Linked DNA regions of Homo sapiens: region 2 is linked to region 1. The links come from fine-mapping of genetic effects on gene expression. A gene starts in region 1. The other region holds a variant in brackets. All regions are shown on one strand. Distances are from middle to middle.

Region 1 (8,340 bases):
GCATTAGCTAAGATACAACAAATATTAATTCATGCATTCATTCCTTCATTCAACAAATATCTGAGTCCCGACCATGTGCCAAACATATTCTAGGCTCTAGAGATTCGGTAGTAAACAAAACAAAACTTCCTATTGCCACAGTGCTTTGTTCTGTATCTGTCTAGGAGATAAATAATACAGCACATCAATAACATAATTTTAAGTACAGATAAGTCGTATGCAAGAAAAAAACTGCAAGAACTTCAAGAGGTTAGAGGGTGACGAGGAAGGCTATTTTCAAATAAATTAAGTAAGGACTGAATGAAATGAGAGGATGAGCTATGTCTTCATTGGGAGAAAGCATTACAGGCAGAACAGCAAGCAAAGGCCCAGGCAGAAACTAACCTGACATGCTGGACCTACAGCAGTGACGATGGCGAGGCTGGAAGAGAGTGAGCAGGGCAGAGAGCAGCAGATGAGACTAGAAGGGTGTGCCAGAGCCCAGTCACCGTCTCTTGATCATGGTATTAAAAAAAAAAAAAAAAAAAATCCTGATTTTTTTTCAGATGGGGTCTCACTCTATTGCCCAGGCACAAACATGGCTCACTGCAACTTTGACCTCCTGGACTCAAGCAATCCTCCCGCCTCAGACTCCCATGTAGCTGAGACCACAGATATGCACCACCACGCCTGGCTAAAACGTTTTTATTTTATCTAACAATAATGGGTTCTGACGACTGAGATATAACCTGCTTTGATTTACCTCTTTTAAAGTTCATGCTGGCTGGTGGGAGACAGAGAGTGGAAGCTGACAAACCAGTTGGGGGGCTCCTGCAGTCATCCAGGCCAGGGAAGAATACAGTTTGACACCAGGGTGGTGGTGGTGGCAGTGCAGGTGATAGGAATGGTCAAATTAACTTTTTAAAAAAGATGGTCCAATCTGCAGTGATTTTGAAGGTAGAGCCCATAATACTTGCTGTTGAAGGAATAGATTTAGAATGAGTGAAATGGGGAATTAGAATTTTTAGCCTCAGCAACTGGTGGATGGTGGTACCATTGACTGAGATGGAGAAGAATGAGAAACTGTAGCCAATGAGGCAGGATGAAAATCAGAAAGAGCGGTGTCCCAGAAGCCAAGGGGAAACGACATTTTGATAGGGAAGGAGTTATCTGTTGCCTGTGTCAAATGTGGCTGAAGATCCAGTTTGGCAAGACTGACATCCCTGGTGACCTGGAGAAGAATTGTTTCATGGAGTAGGAGGGATAATGTGTCTCTGAAGCGGGTTCAGAAGAAGATGGCAGATAAGGAGTAGAGACAGCCTACATGGAGTCCCTTCAAAGATTTTCTTTTTGAAGCAAAGCTGCATTGTTATTGTTTGAAGTTTTATTTTTAACTTTTCATTTCTCCCAGTGCTGGGATTACAGGTGTGAGCCACCGCGCCTGGCCTGTTTCATGTTTTCATTTCTCTTCTTCCACGTTGGAAACCCTAGTTCCCAAAATATCAATGAATTTACTCATTTGCTCAATCCTATAATGCACACAAAATAGTTTCAGAATTGCTACACCTCTACCATACAAATAATAGCCTACTACACAGAGTTCAAGATTATTTTTTCAGTTCTTTAATCTTTAATCCTGTGCTCAAAACTTACTTGGTTTTTTTTTTTTTCTTCTGGGAGTTTATATTATTCACATAAATACACGGTTTGTTGTTGCTGTTTGTATTGTTTTGGAGTCCCACTCTCCACATCTTGTTAATTTTATTTTTGAACATAAAAAAGACTAACAGTTTCCAAAACTCAAAACTATGCAAAAAAGTACATTCAGAACAAGGCCATTCCTTCTGTTGTTCCCATTTACTCAGTTCCTACCCGGTGCCTGTAGGTAACTAATTAGTTTCTGGTTCTCACTCCTGTATTTATTTTTTGTTCTGTCAAAAAACTACGCTTCCTCAAGGTGAGGTAGAGAAATGAGGCAGGGCCAGACGCCGTGGCTCACGCCTGTAATCCTAACACTTTGGGAGGCTGAGGTGGGTGGACTGCTTGAGCCCAAGAGTTCAAGACCAGCCTGGGCAACACAGCGAGATCCCGCTTCTATTTATAAAAATAAATAAATAAAAAGAAATGAGGCAGTCACTGAAGCAGAACACTGGATCAAGAAACCATTTTATTTTAAAATGGCAGACTGTACAATAATGTAAATGATTCTGTAGTAACTGACAAATTGAAGGTGCAGGAGAGAGTATGATAAATTGCAGAGGGAAATATCCATCAAAATATCCTCTAGTTTAATTTGAGGGATATCAAAGGGTTCTCATATCCCAAAATTGACCGCAATCCTGTTTGTAACCTTCCAAATTAGTTATAACTCTATCTCTAGAGAACCCACATTAAAATGGAGTTACTGTTTTATCAAGATAATTAAGCCATCACTACCTATTAATATCAATAGGATACACTGTGCCCTGGCAAAAGGGAGGTTTTGAACTTGGAACAAGACATTTAACTAGGAGTAGAGTGGTGAGAAGAGAATGGCTGATGTGAGAAGCTGTATAAAAACATGGGACAGACAATAATGATCATGCTGGAAAAACAAACATGCTTCTGGCATGTCTTGGATATTTTACACACATGCTAATGAGTAATTGAGGGTCACTCCTCATGCCCTCGAACTAAGTTAATATGGCTCAGGGGAAAGAACATGGACTTTGGAAACAGAGGGGTCTTGCTTCGAATCCCAGTTGAGTTACCTAACACCTACATGACCACTGCCAAGTTACTTAAAACCTCACAGACAATTTCCTTACCTGTGGAAGTAGATAATGGTGTTACTGTGAGATATAAGTAGAATAACTTACAGCACTGCCCCAGCCCAGAAGAGATATTTTAATAAATAAGTCCATAACAGACGCAGATTAAAATAGTCAGCAAGGTAAAGAAACTGATGATACAGCCAGCTGACTTCAATAACATGCCTAAGAGAAATCACACCATCTCAGGCAGTATTTGGTAAGGCCAGAAGAATGTCCAACACTTAGTTCCAATTCTTAATTTTCAAATTGCCCCAGAGTCTATTTTTAAAGTGTAAAAGTATGTGCTGACATACTTACATGCCAATTGTTTAAAAGAAACAATTCTACAGGTTAACAAAGGCCAAAGACTCGGAATAACTTCCTAAATAATGTTTATGGGCCCACAAAGAGTTGAACCAACCTAAAATATCACAAGCTGTATCAATCAGTTTTATAAATGTATATACAGAGGGTTGACAACGTTCAATAAGATGATATTTTAAAAGTTTCTATTTCAGTTTCAAATTCATCTACAAACCAAAATGCAACATGGAAAATCTTAAAATGTCTTTAAGCCACATACTGAAATATACAGTAAATTTTCAGAGCCTAGGATCAGTAGTAAACCAAAAGCCCCAAACTGAAGAGTATTAAAATGAACAATGGCAGAGACTCGAAGCACACAATTTTGAATGCACCTAATCAGCCGTCCTCCTCTCCGACTAGAAATAACTTCCCTCCCATCTTAAATTAAGTAGCGTGTGTTCTGTCTCTGTCCTAGAAGATGTACTTAATGGTCATAAACTCTGTTTGCAACACTGAGACGGACTCATAATAAAAGTTCTAATCAACAATTAAATTTTGAACGTTTTAAGAAAACTTCCCGCTAAGCCACACGCCAAGCTACTTTGTCGGTGGCTGAGAGGGAGAAAGATGCATCCTTATCCTTTATGGAAAGAGAAAGGGAAGGAGTGGGAGAAAAGGGAACACAAGGAGACGAAAAATAACAAAGTATTGCTTGTATAAACAAATGAAAGCCTGGTTTCAAACTTTTGAAAATTCAACGTTCCCTTAGCGAATAGCAATACATATCAAAGTATATGGCAATCATCTGTGTTCTGAAGCAGAAAAAGGTGGAGAGAAAAGCAAAACACTTTTTATTGTACTGAACTCACAAGTATTCAAAATTCATCAATCCCCTCCCATCCCCAAACTCTGGACATTATATCATTTCCAAAATAAATCTGAAACAAAACCATTGGACTAATTTTGGACTCAGCGTAGAACTTTTATGAGTCTTCCAAGCACTCTCCACCCAACAGCCCTGCTGGGCAGTCCCGAATACCCGTTATTTTGGGGGCACGCACGGGCTCGTGCTCTGAGTTCCTGGAAGGAGGCCTCGGGGAGTGACGAGAAACCAGGGGGGTCTGCAGGACTTGGACCGCCGACCGTTCCTCGCTCCCCGGGGCGAGCGGTCTGGACCGCCCGGGAAGTGCCTGCGCCGGCGGTCGTGGGGCCAGTTCCCGCGTGGCAGCTGGGCGCGACACAGGCGCGCCCTCCTCGTCCCTCCCGGGCAGCGTCGGCCGCCCGAGCCCGGGGAGACCCGCCCCGCCCCGCGCCGTCACCCGGGCCCCGTTCCGCAGGGGTGGCTCGCGGCGCCCCACGTCCCTGCGAGAAGCCCGGGATCGCTTCGCGGGGCGCACCGACGAGCCGCCGCTCGCGAGCTCGCCGCCTACCTGGAGGGAGCTCAGGCCCGCGTCGACCGCGCGCTGCCGGTGTCCGCTGGGCGCTCAGCAGCCCCTGGAGCGCGGAGCCGGCGTGGAGAGCGCAGCTCACAGCCGAGACCAGAGCCGCCGGCCACACCCAGTCCCGCACCTCCCAGCAGCCAACTCCGCGGCGCGCCGGAGCCGGGGCGGGGACGTGGCTGGAGGCGCGAGGCGCGAGGCACGAGGCGCGCGGGCCCGGCGGGGACGTGCCGGGGACGCGCAGACCCTCGGAGCGCGCGCAGCCCGGGCGGGGGGCGAAGGGAGCGGGCGCCGCGCGCAGCTTCTGCTTCCTATTTTCTCTCTCGTTTCCTGCCAGAAGGAGAAGAAAAACATTCATTCCCGGGCAGTTTCGTTTTCTTGTTGGTGTGGCGCCGGGGCACGCTGCTAAGTAGCGCCCGTCTAAGTGGCGTGGCCAGTTTCCTTTCCGGCGCTGACAGGCGCCAGTTTGCTTGTTAGCAGGATCGAAGGGCAGAGCTAGAAGACCCCAAAGGCCCCATTTAGGTTTCCCATTCTGGAATTCTAAATGTCAGAAAGTAAACTGAAGCCCAGAGTTGCACAACCTTGCGTTGCAGTCCCCGCTCTTCCATCACTAGTTGTAGGACCGTGTACCGTCTCGGGCCTAAGTTTCGTCATCGCCAAAATAAAGATACTGATACCTGCCTCATAAAGGTGCTAAGCATATTAAATGAAGTGATGTTTGCACGAAGCCTGCCTCCAAATAAATGGCCAATACTTGGAAGTTATTGTTCCTATTGTCATTGATAAAACTGGAAGGCCTTCCAGATATCCCTGCCAAGTCGCTCTTCTCTGCATGAGTTAAACACCACATGCATCTCAATCGAGTTTTTTTTTTTTTCACATTTATCTGGGTGTTTTATGTTTAAAATGTCATAAAATAAATGCATCTATCCAATTTGCTTCCTCTGAAGTCAGTACCGCCTGGGAGCATTTTTCCTCTCCCCACCCCCATTTTTCTTCTGAGTTAATTCCAGTTTGACAGACTGTTGCTATAGCATTCCTTCTCTGACGTCAAACAATTTAAAGAAACAGCCCTGGGTAGCGAAAACTGCAGAGGAGTTCTTTGTGGAGTTTCTGTGCCGGAGAAATGTTCGAACAATATCATCAGATAACTTTAACAACCCCTCAGCCTTCCAATCCTCCTTCTGTAGCTGCTTCCCACTATCACCTGGAATAAATCTATTAGTCCCTTGAAAGAGGTGATGCCATGATAAACACACCCTGTTTGTGACTGTGGGGAAAATGTGACCGTTTTGTATAAAAGCCAGGCCGTGACAAAAATAGAAGCAGCTGTTTCTATTTTCTTTATCCACAGATAAAGAAACTGTGGATAATTTTTCCCCCAAAATTTTCATTTTTACTAATATTAGGAGCATTTTTCCATTAAGAAGAAAGAAATGCCAAATATTCTGCATATCAAAGTGTCAGAAGAGCTCGTTGGGACATGAGTGTTTTGCATCTGTAACTATTTATGTTTTAATGATTAAATCCTGAGTTTTATGATTGTCGTTTTTCGGAGGAAGCAAAGGGAAATTGTTAAAGAGTGCCTATTACGGACCATGCTCTCTGCTTTCTTATACTGTACTTAATCCTCATAATTACCTTGAAGTGTGAATTTTATCCCCATTTTACAGATAAGCAAACTGATGCCCTGGTAAGATTAATTTATCGGAGTCACGAAGGTATTGGTAGAGCCCTGCATGACATCAGATTGGATCAACTCCAAAGCCCACATTCTTTCTTTTTTTTGTTTGTTTTTTTGTTTTGAGACGGAGTCACTGTGCAGTGATGTGATGTCAGCTCACTGCAACCTCCACCTCCAGGATTCAAGCGATTCTCGTGTCTCAGCCTCCCAAGTCTGGGATTACAGGCACAAGCCACCACGCCCGGCTGATTTTTTGTATTTTTAGTAGACACGGGGTTTCACCGTGTTGACCAGGCTGGTCTCAATCTGCTGACCTCAGGTGATCCGCCCACCTCGGCCTCCCAAAGTGCTGGAATTACAGGCGTGAGCCACCGATCCCGGCCCCATATTCTTTCTTTAGATTCTTTTCTGCCTTGTTCCTGTGCACTAGCATTTACCAGATGTTATAAAGCTTTGAGAGCTGGTTGTTGGGTTAAGATTATTTGTTGAAAAACAAGTTGCTGGTATTTAGGAAAACACAGTGGGAAGCAATGAGATAGTCTATTCCAGAAAAGATGAGGGGAAATATAAATGAACAGCTCCTAAACATAAAATACAAAACCTGAAAAGATGTAACAAGAATTTGACTGTCTTTTAAAGAGTTTAAAAGAATGATATCGTCAATCTTCCTGAAAATTTAATGTAGACAAAGAAATTACTAGAAGAATAAAGTCCAAGTACAGAAAAAGGAAAGTTTAATTATTATCCAAACGAATCTACTTCCAAGAATATTGTATTTCTGTTTTGCCATACCTGCTCCATATTGTTCTGGAAAAAAAAAAAAAAACTTACTTGTTAAAGGACAAGCCTATACTGAAAATCTGAAAGTGGAGCTGATTAAAAGAATTTTGTCATCAGGAATGATTTCATAAGAGCACACTAATGCATCTAAGTGATCCAGCAATTCATGATTTTTCCAATGATAATGAAATCCACGAAGAACAAAAGAGAGAGACTGGGAAGGGAGGCAGAGAGAAAGGTGAAGGGGTATGCTATTAACATTTCTGATGCCTGCTGGTTTGTGTAGACAATTGTAGAGATGTATCCTACTTCTGAGGATTAAGCCCCATGATCTTTTGTTTGGGTGCCACTGGCTGATAATTAGATTTCTAACTCATTAGGCCCATGTTCTCAAATCCTACTCTATTAAGAGAGCATAGTGGGGTCCCTACTAGAGAACCTTTGAAGACAAAATCCTTGTCCGTTTCATCTTTGTGTCTGCCATAGTGTTTAACAGAGCACCTTGCATTTGCTAGGTACTCCACGAACAAATAAATGAGTGAATGCACTTGGCTGCTTGTTTTATGCAAATAACCTGCATACCTCACCCCATCCCACACGCTAGTCAGAATCATAGGAGAGGAGAAAGTGGTCATTGCTTTTCTAGGAGTTTAGTTACAGTTTCTTTTGCAGGGTGTTTTGCTTCACTATGATCAAGTTCAGAGAAGCTCTGCTCTTGGTCCTACATTGGATGAATCTGAATGCTGTACTCAGTGAGCTACCCTGTAATCCATAGTGCCATAGGTTTGTATATCCTGCTTTTAAGTTTTACCCTAGAAATGGTCTATATTTTTTTCTGAGCCTACCTTGCTCTCAGACGATGCCAAGCACACCGTGAAGAACACAGCTATTAAAGTGTACAATATTTCAGTACCGCCCTGTATGTGTTGTATGCATTCCAATTCTATTGTGTTTGAAATGAGGCCAAATTATATACATACAACATCACAACTACCGTAACAGATTTTATTTCACCCACAACAAAATAAGTTATAAAATATTAAATGGAAATTATCTAACAGGATCTACAGCACAGTTTCCCAAGGACATGAGAAGCAATTCCCTAGTAGATTCTGTAAGAAGTCAGTCTATGTGTGGTTTCAGACAGACATCCTTGATACAGAGTAGTCATGCCTAAAGCCTTCCCTCTTGCTCACACACAATGCATTTTCCATATCAAAGTACAGTTTGTACTTTGAGTCACCTTTGCTGTACTCCTCTGACACTGGTGGTACAAATCAGTTATAGCTTTTGTTTATTTCCACTCAGGTTCTCGTTAACCATGGGAATTTGGAATCTGTCATCCAAGTGCATCCCAGTG
Region 2 (8,340 bases), 81 kb after region 1:
AAAATTGCAGAGTTATATAGAGAACAGAGAACTGACTAATGTCCCACAGAGCAATAAAATCGAAATCTTGGCCAGGCGCAGTGGCTCACACCCGTAATCCCAGCACTTTGGGAGGCTGAGGCAGGTGGATCATGAGGTCAGGCGATCGAGACCATCCTGGCTAACATGGTGAAACCCCGTCTCTACTAAAAATACAAAAAATTAGCCAGGCATGGTGACACGCACCTGTAGTCCCAGCTACTCAGGAGGCTGAGGCAGGAGAATGGCGTGAACCCAGGAGGCGGAGCTTGTGGTGAGCCGAGATCGTGCCACTGCACTCCAGCCTGGGCAACAGAGTGAGACTCCATCTCAAAAAAACAAAAAACAAAAAAACAAACAAAAACCTTTAAGATTCTTTTTTATTGGACATAAAGCATTTGACTCTCTATATGACAAAAAACCAATTGTGACTGATTAATTTTCTAAATGTCCACATCTAATTTTAAAGACAATCAACCCTAATCAATAAAGCATAGTAGATCAAACAAAATGACATCCCTAGGTGATGAGTGGTTTCAGGTGGACTTAGACAATGTTTGCTATGGCCTGAATGTCATCCCCTCAAAATTCTTGTTTTGAAATCACCAATGTGATGGTTATTAGGAGATAAAGTCTTTGGGAGGTGATTAGGTCACCAGGGGAAAGCCATCATGAATGGGATTAGTACGTTTATAAAAGAGGGTCCCAGGGAGCTGCTTTTCCCCTTCCACCCTGTAAGGATACTCTGAGCAGGTGTCTTCTAGATACTGAATCTGCCAGTGCCTTGATCTTGGACTTTCCAGCCTATAGAACTGTGAGAAATACATTTTTGTTGTTTATAAGTTACTCAGTCTAAGGTATTTTGTGATGGCAGGCATTAAGGACTGAGACAATGTTGTGTACAGCACTATCGAATGAAGCTTTCTGTGATGATGGAAATGTTCTATTGCACTGTCCAGTGATGTAGCCACAGGAACATGTAGCTGTTGAGCATTTGAAATGTGACTAGTATGCTGAGGAGTTGAATGTGAATTAATTTAAACTGAAGTAGTCACATGTGACTAGTGACTCCTTTGTTGAATGATGCACTGTATGACTTTGAAAGAGCACAGTCTGCAGAATAGCCAGGTGATTCATACCCACAGTAAATGTTGGGAAGAACTGTTGTACATGATACTGACAAAGGTAGCTGTAGACCACATTTTGAGAAATACTGCTCCACTCCCTGCTCTTACAGAATCCACTTTCAAAAAACGCAAACGTGGTATTATCAATCCCACTTAACGGGACAGAAGGTCAACTGCTGAAAGGCAATATAATTAGTCAGTGGTCATGCAGTTTGGTTATAAAACAAACTGAAAGCAGCTTGTCTAGATCCAGTTGATTGTAGCCCAGAATTGCCAGATCTTGCAACTTTTCAGAAAACTCCACAAATCTGAATTTTTATATAAGATATTCTCGGATTTTCAAAATCCTATGTAGACCAAACAAAATGAGTTTTGAATCCTGATATAGTCCGTAGGCTACCAGTTTCCAACCCCGGTACAAAGATTACCCTGCTGCTAGGCCAGACGCGGTGGCTCACACCTATAATCCCAGCACTTTGGGAGGCCGAGGCGGGCAAATCACCTGAGGTCAGGAGCTTGAGACCAGCCTGACCAACATGGAGAAACCCCATCTCTACTAAAAATACAAAATTAGCCGGGCATGGTGGCACGTGCCTGTAATCCCAGCTACTTGGGAGGCTGAGGCAGGAGAATCGCTTGAACCCGGGAGGCAGAAGTTGCAGTGAGCCGAGATTGCACCATTGCACTCTAGCCTGGGTGATGAGAGCAAAACTCTGTCTCAAAAAAAAAAAAAAAAAAAAAGATTACCCTGTTGTCTCTACAAGGAACTGAGGACAGGGGTTTGGCCTTTCCAGATCTTTCCAGGCAGAATCAAAGGCTTCTCGCAGCACTTGTTAGTATGGCCCGTTCAATGTTCAATGCTGTGAGAAGAAAATTTCTGTTATTTATAAATCACCCAATCTAAGGTATTTTATTACAGCAGCCCAAATGGACTGCTTGTCACATATCCCTAAAAAGTTATTTACATGCCGTCTTTCCAACTAGATTGCAAGTCCCTGGAGAAGAGGCACATACTCAGCTACCTATTGTCAGCATAACACCTGAAAAACAGAAAGCATTTAATATATCTTAGTTAAATGAGTGCGCATGAAAATTAGAAGCTTAAACCAGGCATAGCGGCTACACCTGTAATTCCAGCTCCTTGGGAGCCTGAGGCAGGAGGATTCCTTGAGCCCAGGAGTTCAGACCAGCTTGAGCAACACAGTGAGATTTCCCCCCAAAATAAATTAATCAATTGAAAGTTTTTTAAAAAAATCAGAAACTGGCCGGCCTCAGTGGCTCCCACCTTTAATTCCAGCACTTTGGGAAGCCAACAGGGGAGGATTGCTTGAGGCCAGAAGTTAAAGACCAGCCTGGGCAACATAGCAAGATCTTGTTTCTACTAAAAGTAAAAAAACAAATTAGCTGGGCATGGTGGTGCACGCCTGTAGTCCCAAATACTTGGAAGGCAGAAGCAAGAGGATTTCTTGAGCCCAGAAGTTTGAGGTTGCAGTGAGCTGTGATACACCACTGCACTCCAACCTTGTCTCTTAAAAGAAAAAAAAAATCAGAAGCTTAAATAGGATGGCGATGGGCCAAATGAATTTATTTCCTTGTTGTTGTGTTGTTGTTTTTAAACAACAAGATAGCAGATCCCATTTCTAAAATAAATAAATAAATAAACAGAAAAGTACAGAGTCTTGCTATGTTGCCCAGGCTGGCCTCCAACTCCTGTTCTCAAGCAATCCTCCCACCTCGGCCTCCCAAGTAACTGGGACTGTAAGCACCACATTACTCAACCTGGCTTGAGTGTAGGTTTAAAAACTGTGATGGGGTTCCTCCTTGATCCATAATGGTTTATTTATTGCTGCCACAAATAAAAACATACATGTTAAATGTGTACAGTTATAAAACTTACCCTTATTTATTTATTTATCTATCTTTAAGACAGAGTCTTACTCTGTTGCCCAGGCTGGAGTGCAGTGACGCAATCATGGCTCACTGAAGCTTTGAACCCCCTGGACTCAGGTGATCCTCCCACCACAGTAGCTGGGACTACAGGTATGCACCACCAGGTCTGGCTAATTTTTTTATTTTTAATTTTTTTGTAGAGATGGGGGTCTCCCTATGTTGCCCAGATTAGTCTTGAACTCCTGGGCTCAAAAGATCCTCCTGCCTTAGCCTCCCAAAGTGTTAGGATTACAGGCACGGGCCACCACACCTAGCCAAACTTACCTTTTATTTATATAAAATATACAACTCATACAATGTAACATCTGTCCAGGTAGAAATATGTCAATTAACCATACCGATTGATAGGCCTAAGTATTATGTCTTAATTAATTTTTAAAAATCACATACTTTCCAAGGAACATGATATATTCCTATTTTGAACAGATCCAAATTTTTCCCATGCTGACTTTTGAGGTAAACTAGGTCTTTCTACTGACTTTACCAAAATTATTTTTAAAATATACCTAGCACCTTCTCACATTTTTTCCCTGGGGGCAGAGGGAAACTGTGGTGTAAAGAGAAGTCTACATAGTTTTTTTTTTTTTTAAACAAATCCAGTCATTAAAAGCGGAGCTGCAGAGACAAGAGTAGGGAGCTCTTTTCTGTACTGTGAAGTTTGGTTCTCTCTGAAGTAGAATTTCATCAAACTGAATGTGTTATGCATTTTAAATATATTTGAGGCTAAAAGGGAAAAATAAGTATGTTGTTCTTTCTTGTAGGCTTGCCTTTAGATGTGTCTGGTCACTACCTTGGAAACCCTTACAAATGGCAACTGACGTCAAGAAAAGAGAAAAAACACTGCTGAGGGCACAC[G/A]GTGCATGCATTATAGATGATTCTGAGGACTGAGGCTTGTGCCAGCACTAAGTGGCTTTAAGATGAGCATAAGCAATCTTCCATTTCACAAACATTCTTCATAAACTGTTTAAGGACTTGGAGGTCTGAAAAAACTTCTTTGAGTTTTTAATTTAAGCAAGGTGACGATTCAGTTATTAGCTTAAGTGTTCTGTCCCACCATAACTGCCAAGGTCATTAAAATGTTTGGCACTAATATATCTCAAAAACAAGTGGAAGCTGCACCCTTGTTTTGAATATAGTTTATCCCAATATTTTATTATGAAAAAATTCAGACAGATAGCAAGTTGAAAGAATTTTACAGTGAACAACCAATATACTCATCACCCAGATTCTTCTATTTTCAATATACTCAACTGGCCTTATCATATGTCTGTCTGTCTACCATGCATCCATCCATCCATCCATCTATTCTTTTATCTATATCTTAATCCATCCACTTTTGATGCATTTCAAATAAATTGCAGACATGAGTTCACTTCCCCTGTAAATATTTCAGCATGCATATCACAACTAGAATTCAGTATTTGTTTATAGGTTTTCTTTTGTTATAACATCTACATATAACATCTACAATGAAATGTACAAATCTTAAGTGTACATTTGCTGTTTTGACAAATGGTTAGTCTCAGAGTGTAGTGGGCTAGTTTTTCTAGATTTATGGTCCTTTTTTTTCTCTAGGGTCTCCACACATATTATCTTTTTCTTTTTTGAAAGGGAGTTTACTTTCTAGAGGTGTTTTAGGTTCATAGCAAAACTGAACAGAAAGTACATAGAATTCCCATACGCCCCCTGCACCAACACCATGTACAGCCTCCCCCACTGTCAACATCCCACACCAGAGTGGTATATTTGTTACAACCACTGAACCTACATTGATATAGTCCATAGCTTACATTAGTGTTCAGTCTTGGTGTTTTACATGCTATGGGTTTGAACAAATATATAATGATATACATCCACCATGGTAGAATCCTACAGAAGTTTCATTGCCTTAAAATTCTCAGTGCTTTGCCATTCATCCCTCCTTCCCCTGGTAACCACTGATCTTTACTGTCTCAATAGTTTTACCTTTTCTAGAGATCATATAGTTGAAATCAAACCTTCCCCTGGGAACCACTGATCTTTTTATTGTCTCAATAGTTTTACCTTTTCCAGAGATCACATAGTTGAAATCGTAGTTGAATTTGCATTTAACAAGTTCGGAACACTCTTTTTTTAGAATCTAAGAAGTGACGTTTCCGAACCTATTGACCTTTTATAAGAAAATATGAATATCCAGCCCTAAAAACTAGAAACAAGCTATCTGTAAAAACGCTTTGTGATGTGTTGCTTTATATCACAGAATTGAACCTGTGATATAGGTTTTCAGATTGACTTCTTTCACTTAGCAATAGGCATTTAAAGCTTTTCCCATGTTTTTCATGGTTTGATAGCTCATTTCTTTGTAGCACTTTTTTGCATTTCTTTTTAGCATCCCCTTATCTGGACGTCCTACAGTTTATTTATTCAGCTACTGAAGGACATCTTGATTGCTTCCAATTTTTGGCAATTGTGAATAAAGCTGCTATAAACATTCATGTGCAGGTTTTTATGTGGACGTAAGGTTTCAACTCATTTGAGTAAATACCAAGGAACATGATTGCTGGATTATATGGTAACAGTAGGTTTAGTTTTGTAAGAAGTTGCCAAACGCTCTTCCAAAGTAGCTGTACCATTTTTCATTCCCGCCAACAATGAATGAGAGCTCCTGTTGTTCCACATCCTTGTCAGCCTTTGGAGATGTCAGTGTTTTGGATTTTGGCCATTCCAATAGCTGTGTGGTAGAATCTCATCATTGTTGTTTTAATTTGCATTTCTCTAATGACATATGATATTGAGCTCCTTTCCATATACTTACTTGCCTCTGTATATCTTCTTTGGTGAGGTATCTGTTCAGGTCTCTTGCCATTTTTTAATCAGGTTATTTGTTTTCTTATTATTGAGTTTTAAGAGTTCTTTGTATTTTAGTTAATAGTCCTTTATCACATATATCTATTGCAAATATTTTCTACCAGTCTGAAGCTTGTCTTCTCATCCTCTTGACAGTGTGTTTTAAAAAGTTATATTCATTTTCCATTAAACAATTAGTCTGTTCAACTGAGGGGAAAACTTGGTAGAAAAGAAGATTCCTGCCATCATGGAACCTACATTTTAATGGAAGAAACAACAATAAACAAATACATGAATAAACATATAATAGGTATTTACGTGGAGTTACTTGCTGGAAAGAAAATTAAAACAAGGTAAGGGGTTAAAGAGTAGCTGGAGAAGGATCACTCTGGCTGCTGTGTAGACCTCATGGGGCCAAGGTAGAATAGACCATACTGGGGGCAAGGGTAGAAGTGGGAGTTAGGAAGTTACTGCCCTCATACAAGCAAGAGACAATGTGGGCATGGACTAGGGTGGAAGCAGTGGGTGTGGTGAGAAATATCCAGATTCTGGACATTTCTTAAAAGTGGCACTGGCATAACTTGCTCATGGGTTGGTTATAAGAGAAAGGATTCGGGGATGGAAGGTAGGTTTGGGCCTAAACAACTGTGTGAATGGTGGTGAAATTGGGAGGAGAGTGTGGAAGGAAGGGGAGGCGGACCAGGCTGGGGGATGGGACAATCAAGTGAATATTCAGGAGGAGATGGCCAAGCAGGCCATTGGGATTCCACCGGAAAGGTTAGGGCTGGAAATACACAAATGAGGGAGTCTTCAGCATATCGAAAGTGTGCTGCATGTCTTTGCAGCCTTCCTTATTCTCACTCCATGCCTCTCCACTCTGCTGTTTACCTTCACACAGCCTGACCTGCATGGATTAAGTCAATGAACTCCAACCCCTGGTTTCCAGCTGGATTCAGCCAGCCTTGGGGCAGATCCGAAAAAAAGAGCAAGTGAGGTGGTGTATTCCCCCAGCTCCCTCGCTGAAGATTGCCTGAGTCCCTTGATCAAAGCCACAGCTCCCATCACACAGACCTCCCCACAGCTGTTCCTCTCTAGGTGCAGTCACTGCTCCTGATTGAATGAGGTTGGATGAGATCACTTAGGGAGTGTGAATAGATAGAAAAGAAGAGCTTTGAGGACTGCCTCCTAGGACACTGTAATATTTAGAGGCCAGAAAGAAGAGGCGGGCTCTGCCAAAGGGGAGTCTGTGTGGCAGAAGAAAAACAGGAACATGTGGTGTCTGGGTAGAGGCTCAGTGAAGGTAGCGTTCTTCAAGAGACAGTTCTCCTGGCCGAGCACAGTAGCTCACACCTGTAATCCCATCACTTTGGGAGGCTGAGGCAGTTGGATCACTTGAGGTCAGGAGTTCGAGACCAGCCTGGCCAACATGGTGAAATGCTGACTCTACCAAAAATACAAAAATTAGCCAGGCGTGGTGGTGCGCCTGTAATCCCAGCTACTCGGGAGGCTGAGGCAGGAGAATCGCTTGAACCCGGGAGGCCGAGGTTGCAGTGAGCCAAGATGGCACCACTGTATTCCAGCCTCAGCAACAGAGGGAAACTGTGTCAACAAACAAACAAAAGAAGCTTAGTTCTCCTAGAGTGTCCTAAGCTACTATTTTCCTGAAACTCTCAGGACCCTTTTTGTTCTCCCTCATCATTCTTGACTTTTCTTCTCTCAGGGTTGTGGTACTTGCTTTGCAATTAAGCTTTAGACACTCCAGATATGCTGATATGTTGTGTCGGACCTCAAGGGGGGTGATGGTTTGAGCTCTGGTCAGAGGCTCTCAGTAGCTGTGCATATCTATAGATGCATCAGGTATGGGAAGGAGAGGGAAACAGGGAGAAACCACCAGGAAATATACACAATTTTTTTTTTTTTTTTTGCGACGGAATCTCACTCTGTCACCCAGCTGGAGTGCAGTGGCATGATCTTGGCTCACTGCAACTCCGTCTCCCAGGTTCAAGCGATTCTCCTGCCTCAGCCTCCCAAGTAGCTGGGACTACAGGTGAGTGCCACCACGCCCAGCTAATTTTTGTATTTTTAGTAGAGACGGGGTTTCACCATGTTGGCCAGGCTGGTCTCGAACTCCTGACCTCAGGTGATCCACCCACCTCGGCCTCCCAAAGTGCTGGGATTATAGGTGTGAGCCACTGCACCCGGCCAGACAATTATTTTTAAATATCTCTCGGGTACTATGCTGTGAATATGATGAAAGCAGGAACTATTTCATATTCACATCGATGTTCAGAACCTAACACCCACTTCACAGTTGCAGCTTGATACAATTTTTTTCAATAAATACTTTTTTTAAAAAAATGACATATGGTAATATAATTATACTATGCTTTTGGTGCATGAAGTCACCTTTACAGACTTG

Evidence for each region. PIP is the estimated chance that this variant, and not a neighbour inherited with it, causes the effect.
Region 2: its variant is fine-mapped to the expression of GNB4 in caudate (GTEx, PIP 0.95).

The regions. Positions count from the first base shown.
Region 1 is chr3:179,446,839-179,455,178 of GRCh38, forward strand. It overlaps GNB4 (G protein subunit beta 4), which reads right to left and starts at 4,632. Exons shown (of 10, transcript NM_021629.4): 1 at 4,508-4,632. It also overlaps the pseudogene RPL29P34. RefSeq lists silencers at 4,203-4,612, 4,653-4,802.
Region 2 is chr3:179,527,861-179,536,200 of GRCh38, forward strand. No RefSeq gene overlaps it. Among named protein-coding and RNA genes, the nearest start is that of ACTL6A, 31 kb to the right of the region's middle. The variant G/A (reference allele first, on the strand shown) is at 3,951.